2 separate regions of the Homo sapiens genome follow, and region 1 is linked to region 2. Evidence: fine-mapped expression QTL. A gene starts in region 2. The other region holds a variant in brackets. All regions are shown on one strand. Distances are between the middles of the regions. Region 1 has its middle 6.0 kb from the start of HAS1. Region 2 holds the start of ZNF615 (zinc finger protein 615).

Region 1 (2,912 bases), 280 kb after region 2:
AACTCTGACCGCTGGTGAGCCAGGCAGAACAGAGCCATATTTCTCTTCTTTCAAAAGCAAATGGGAGAAATATCGCTGAATTCTTTTTCTCAGCATGGAACATCCCTGGGAAAGAGAATACGCGCCTGGAGGTATAGGCTTATAAATATCCCCCCCAGGTGCTCCTGTCTCTTATGGTCGAGACTGCAGGGGTGAAATAGACTCCAGTCTCCCATAGCGCTCGCTCCCAGGCTTATTTGGAAGAGCAAATTCCCTCCTAATAAATTTTGATCAGACCAGTTGATCTCAAAACCCTGTCTCCTGATAAGATGTTATCAATGACAATGGTGCCTGAAACTTCATTAGCAATTTTAATTTTGCCTCGGTCCTGCGGTCCTGTGATCTCGCCCTGCCTCCACTTGCCTTGTGATATTCTATTACCTTGTAAAGTACGTGACCTCTGTGACCCACACCTATTCGCACGCTCCCTCCCCTTTTGAAAATCCCTAATAAAAACTTGCTGGTTTTTGTGGCTTGTGGGGCATCACGGAACCTACCGACATGTGATGTCTCCCCCGGACACCCAGCTTTAAAATTTCCCTCTTTTGTACTCTGTCCCTTTATTTCTCAAGCTGGCCAACGCTTAAGGAAAATAGAAAAGAACCTACATGAATATCGGGGCAGATTCCCTGATAGCTCGGAACGCAGTAGAGCTGAGAATCTAGGGGTCCAGGCCTCATCTTGAGCCCACTGGATGCCAGCCCCCCCACCCCCTCCTCCCTCAGACCCAGGAGTCCAGGTCCAGCCCCTTCTCCCTCAGACCCCAGAGTCTAGGCCCCCAGCCCCTCCTCCCTCAGACCCAGAAGTCCAGGTCCCAGGCCCTCCTCCCTCAGATCCAGGAGTTCAGGTCCAGCCCCTCCTCCCTTAGTCCCGGGAGTCCAGGTCCAGCCCCTCCTTCCTCAGACCAGGGAATTCAGATCCCAGCCGCTCCTCCCTCAGACTCAGGAATCCAGGCTCTCAGATCTTAGTCTAAGCCCCCAGCTCCTCCTTCCTCTGTGACTGGCAGGGCATAGCCTAGTGACCTAATGCCTACCACCTGATTT[CTG/G]TTACCCAGCCATGCTGCCTGTGTGCTGTATCACTTGTCCCAGGAAATGACTCTTCTTGTGCCTCAGTTTCCCTATCTGGAAAATGGGTCTCCTCCTCTCTTGCTTCCCTGGAGAGGATAAACAGCTTTTGCAAAAGGAAGCCCCTCCCTCCCTCTCCCTCTGTCTGGCTCTTACTGTCTCTGTTTCTCTCCAGGGAAAGTGGCAGGAGAGATGGTGCATGCTGGGGTAGAAAGTGCCTTCAACTTGTTACAGGCAGGGCTCTCCCCCTCCAGGCCTTTCTCTCCCTCCTCCCAGCTCTGGAAGTCCTACAGTTTCTCCCAGAGGCACTAGCTGGAGGCAGAAGGTGGATGTACAGTCATCATTGCTGGCTAGGCTCCCTCCCTCCCTCCCTGGATTTCGGCAGAATCATGGAAGCCTAGGGGTTTCCCAGAATAGGCATGTGGGGGAGAAAAGGTCCCGTCTAACTCCAGCCCATCCAAGGTTCTGAGTTCCTGGAAGTCCAGAGGCAGTCTCTTTACAGACTTGGGGTCTTTGCTGATCCTGGAGTCTTTTTCCTCTAAGGTCCCACCTCCCCGGAGCTCCTCAACCCATCCTCCCAGGACTGGCCACTCTGAGTGGTGTCCATAGAACTATTACGCAGGAGTCGGTTGGGGGTCCCAGCTGCTAGGCCCTCTCTCCCCAACTTCTCTCCTCCCCCTCTTGCCTATCCTTCCCTCTCTCTCTCCCTCCTCCATTCTCCTCCTCCTCTTCTGATCTTCCTCCCCCTCCTTCTCTCTTTCCCTCCCTCCTCCTCTCCTTCCTCCTTCTTCCCTTATCTTTCCTTCCCCTCCTTCCTTCCTCTCCATTTTTTTTTCCCCCAGACAGAGTCGCTTTGTCGCCTAGGCTGGAGTGCAGTGGCGTGATCTCGGCTCATTGCAAACTCCACCTCCCGGGTTCAAGCGATTCTCCTGCCTCAGCCTCCTGAGTAGCTGGGACTACAGGCATGCACCACCACGCCCACCTAATTTTTGTGTTTTTAGTAGAGACGGGGTTTCACCATGTCAGCTAGGCTAGTCTTGAACTCCTGACCTCAAGTGCTCCACCTGCCTTGGCCTCCCAAAGTGCTGGGATTACAGGCGTGAGCCACCGTGCCCGGTCGCTCTCCTTTTTCTTTCCCCTCTCCATCTACCAATCTGACTTTCTATCCTGACCTCACACATTGTTCAACACATATTTGTTGAGCACCTACCTAGACACAGGTCCAGGCTCTGAGGAATGAGCCATGAACAAACCAGATAAAGACAGCTGCCTGTCTAGAGCTTGCATTCGAACCAGGAAGACACACATTACACAAAAAAGATACTAAACGTACCTTATGCAGGTTATACGTTATATAGGAAGGGGACCAATGCTATGGGGAAAAAGAAAAAGCAGAAGAGAGTAAAGGGGGTCAGGAATCCAGGGGTAGGGCAGTTTTTCGCTGTTGAATAGATGGTCGTGGAAGCCAGCTTCTGTCTTTCATTCCTCTCCCTCCCTCCTTTTCTCCTCTGTCTCTCGGTATCTAGATCCCCGCAGTGTGCATTTCCCTTCCCAATCCAGGACACCTGGCAAAGAAACCATCTACCGGGATTCAAGCATTTAATAAAACAAGGATCTCTTCAGGTTACTGCCCAGGGGCCCCTTGCCCTCACTGGTTCCCCAGTAGGTACCTGCCTGAGATGGAGCAAAGCGAGGAGCAACTGTAGCCAGAACTAGCTGAGGTTAGGGGCTTGGCAAGTTAGCCCGCCATGTCTGTGTCCATCCCCCAGTCTTCTTGGTCCTGGCTCCTCGGGGTCCTGCACCTCTGCC
Region 2 (2,912 bases):
ATCATAGTGAGACCCTTGTCTCTACAGAAAATTAAAAAATTAGCCAGGTGTGGTGGTGCCCACCTGTAGTCCCAGCTATTCAGGAGCCCAGGAGTTCCAAGTTACAGTGAGCTGTGATCTCCCCAGGCACTCCAGACTGGGCAACAGAGTGGACCTTGCCTCAAAAAGAGACAAAAAAAAAACAAAAAAAAAGAAAAACTCTCATATACCAAGGGTGAGAAGAGCAAATGGAACACGAACTTGACTCTGAAAAATAGTTTGACAATTTCTCTGTATATTTATATACTGATACCTATATCACACACATAGATTCACACAGGCATTTCCTTTCTCTCATTCTTCTAATATAGGAAGTTTGGTTGGATTTATATTTACAGTTCAGCATTGCCATGACTTTGCACATACTATTCGCGGTTGGCACACGTAGTATAACGTGATCTCCTTCTTAACCTTTCTTTCTTTTGTTTTTTTTTTGAGATGGAGTTTTGCTCCTGTTGCCCAGGCTGGAGTGCAATGACGCCATCTTGGCCCACAGCAACCTCCGCCTCCCGGGTTCAAGCGATTCTCCTGCCTCAGCCTCCCGAGTAGCTGGGATTACAGGCATGCGCCACCATGCCTGGCTAATTTTGTATTTTTAGTAGAGACAGGGTTTCTCCATGTTGGTCAGGCTGGTCTCGAACTCCCGCTCTCAGGTGATCCGCCCACCTCGGCCTCCCAAAGTGCTGGGATTACAGGCGTGAGCCACCGCGCCCGGCCTCTTTCCCAACCTTTTTTTTCTCACTGAAGTGGTCCTGTTCCCTTAATTTCTGGCCACTTCTCCTGAGTCCAGCCCTCATATTTGGCTCCACCTGGGTCCCAGGCTCTCCCCTCCGCCTTGGGAACTATACTTTCTGGCTTTTACTGGCTTTTCCCCATGCCTTTCACCCAACATAATTTTGGCACGTTCCAACCGTTTTCATTACCTAGTCTGTGACTGCTACCCCTGTTCCGTCAGCGTAGCTAACAGCCCTCTTCTGCGTTCAAAAGGCGCTTCAAGCTACTTTGTTAGAAATCTGGCTTTGGCCGAAGTGTCCCCTCTCGGCCGGTTCTCCTTTTCCCTCACAAGGAACTGTTTCCTAACCTTTGTACAAAGTGTAAACGTCGCGGCCATCTTAGCCTTCTATTCAGCTGCTGAAAGGGATTTACCTCCACGCCATTTTTGTCTTGTGTAAACTGGAGCCTCTGTATATGGACCCGTATTTATGAAGGGTTGAGGTGCCAGGAAATGGGACAGTTTCAGTGCTCTTTCATCTTCCCGGCCATCCCCGGTCACCCCCGGTCACCCCCGGTCACCAGCGCCAAAACGCGCCCTTTGCCTTGTGTACGTCAGATACTCAAAGATGGCGGCCCCCATGGAGCCAAGGCGACGAGGGCGCGGCCATCTTGCATCTGCGCAAACGCTGGGAACGCCTCCGACCCTGGATAGTCGCCGTCAGGCACTGAGGAGGCCGAGAGATGAGGCCGGAGCCCACCAAGTTCTGGGAAGTAAGTTCAGTCACTGGGTGGTCGCTGTGGTGACGGGGGAGGAAATTCTGTCCGTGGCTGGGCGTGTTCGTGGACAGTGGTGATGGACTGGTATCTGTCGGCGCCAGCGTTTGGCGACGCCAGTGGAATTCTTTCAGGAGCTTAGCGTGGGTCCGATTCCTATCGCAGGGGAACTACAAGAGGTCCGTGATAGGGTGTGTGTGTGTGTGATCGGGGTACCTCTGGGACCAGTCACAGGGTCCTCGTGTAGTTTGTGGTTAAAGATCTCTAGAGATCCGCTACTGAGTGCCCAAGTCACATTCTGGTGTCTTTGGTGTTGTCCTTTGGCGGGGCTCAGTGATTGCGAACTGGAGGGTTTGTTTTGTCAGCGAATCGGTTTATGGTTCAGGTTTTGTTTGGGACTAAATGATTGAGGAACTGTCTTGGGGGTTAAGGTACGGAGGTTTCTGATCCAGGTTTTGGAATTAATCCCGGTGGCGGTGGTGGTAGCGCCACAGATTCCGATGTGGGCTGCAGCTCTGGAGGCCTGGGAACCATGGCAGGTGATGGGTTAGCCCCAGCCCTGGCTGCTGGAACAGAATTGATGCTCATTAGCATTCCCCTTCTGCCCAAGACCCTTCTCCACGACTGGTTTTTAAATCCCCTTTGGCACCTTCCATCACCCCTTGGTCTTGAATCCTCAGAAATGGAAGTTTTTGGCGAGATCAGTCATCTAGCATACCTAAAAGTAGTATGTTTTATATTTAAGATGCGGCTTCTACCCTTTGTCCTGCAAGTTTCCAGCGTATCCTCTTGGATATTTCTTTTCAGGTTCTTTCTGACACAAGTAAGATAACATCTCTGCCATGGTAAGCTCGGTTACTCAAAGATAACCTTTGTCAAATTTTCAGAATATTTCAATTTTAGACGTGTATGTTATGTGCTTAATATTCATAATTCAGATAAATTATGTAAATGGTACTATTATCTTTTTCGCTTTATATTATGTAATAAACATTTAGAAGTTGTTTTTACTGTTTGAGCCGGTGGTACTATAAGTGCATTCACATTAAGTTTATGCGTACATTTGGATAGAAGTGAAATGTTTTAAAATGTTTAGGTATTATTTTTAGGAACATTTTATGATTATCCATTTATCCATGAATTTTGTTTTTCCTGCCTTTAATCTTCAATCTAGACTATTACTTTTATTGCAGTGTATTGCTTTCTGACTCCCCTTTCCTTATAATCTATAACAAAAGATAAATTAATTTTAAATATTTATTTTATATTTGGTCATCTTAATTCTTAGTATTACAATATTTTTCTCTCTGCCTAACATATTATTTTGTGAAAATTTTTGAACCTATGGAAATATTGAAAGAAGTTTAATGTTAATACCAATATGC

The links. PIP is the estimated chance that this variant, and not a neighbour inherited with it, causes the effect. A credible set is the group of variants that fine-mapping cannot tell apart.
Region 1: its variant is the best candidate, but not a certain one, in a credible set for the expression of ZNF615 in whole blood (INTERVAL, PIP 0.59).

What each region holds. Positions count from the first base shown.
Region 1 is chr19:51,728,500-51,731,411 of GRCh38, reverse strand. No RefSeq gene overlaps it. Among named protein-coding and RNA genes, the nearest start is that of HAS1, 6.0 kb to the right of the region's middle. The variant CTG/G (reference allele first, on the strand shown) is at 1,083.
Region 2 is chr19:52,006,753-52,009,664 of GRCh38, reverse strand. ZNF615 (zinc finger protein 615) reads left to right here and starts at 1,454. Exons shown (of 7, transcript NM_001199324.2): 1 at 1,454-1,524; 2 at 2,335-2,372. LOC124904755 (a long non-coding RNA gene) reads right to left here and starts at 1,367. Exons shown (of 2, transcript XR_007067321.1): 1 at 1,186-1,367. RefSeq lists enhancers at 944-1,023, 1,084-1,693.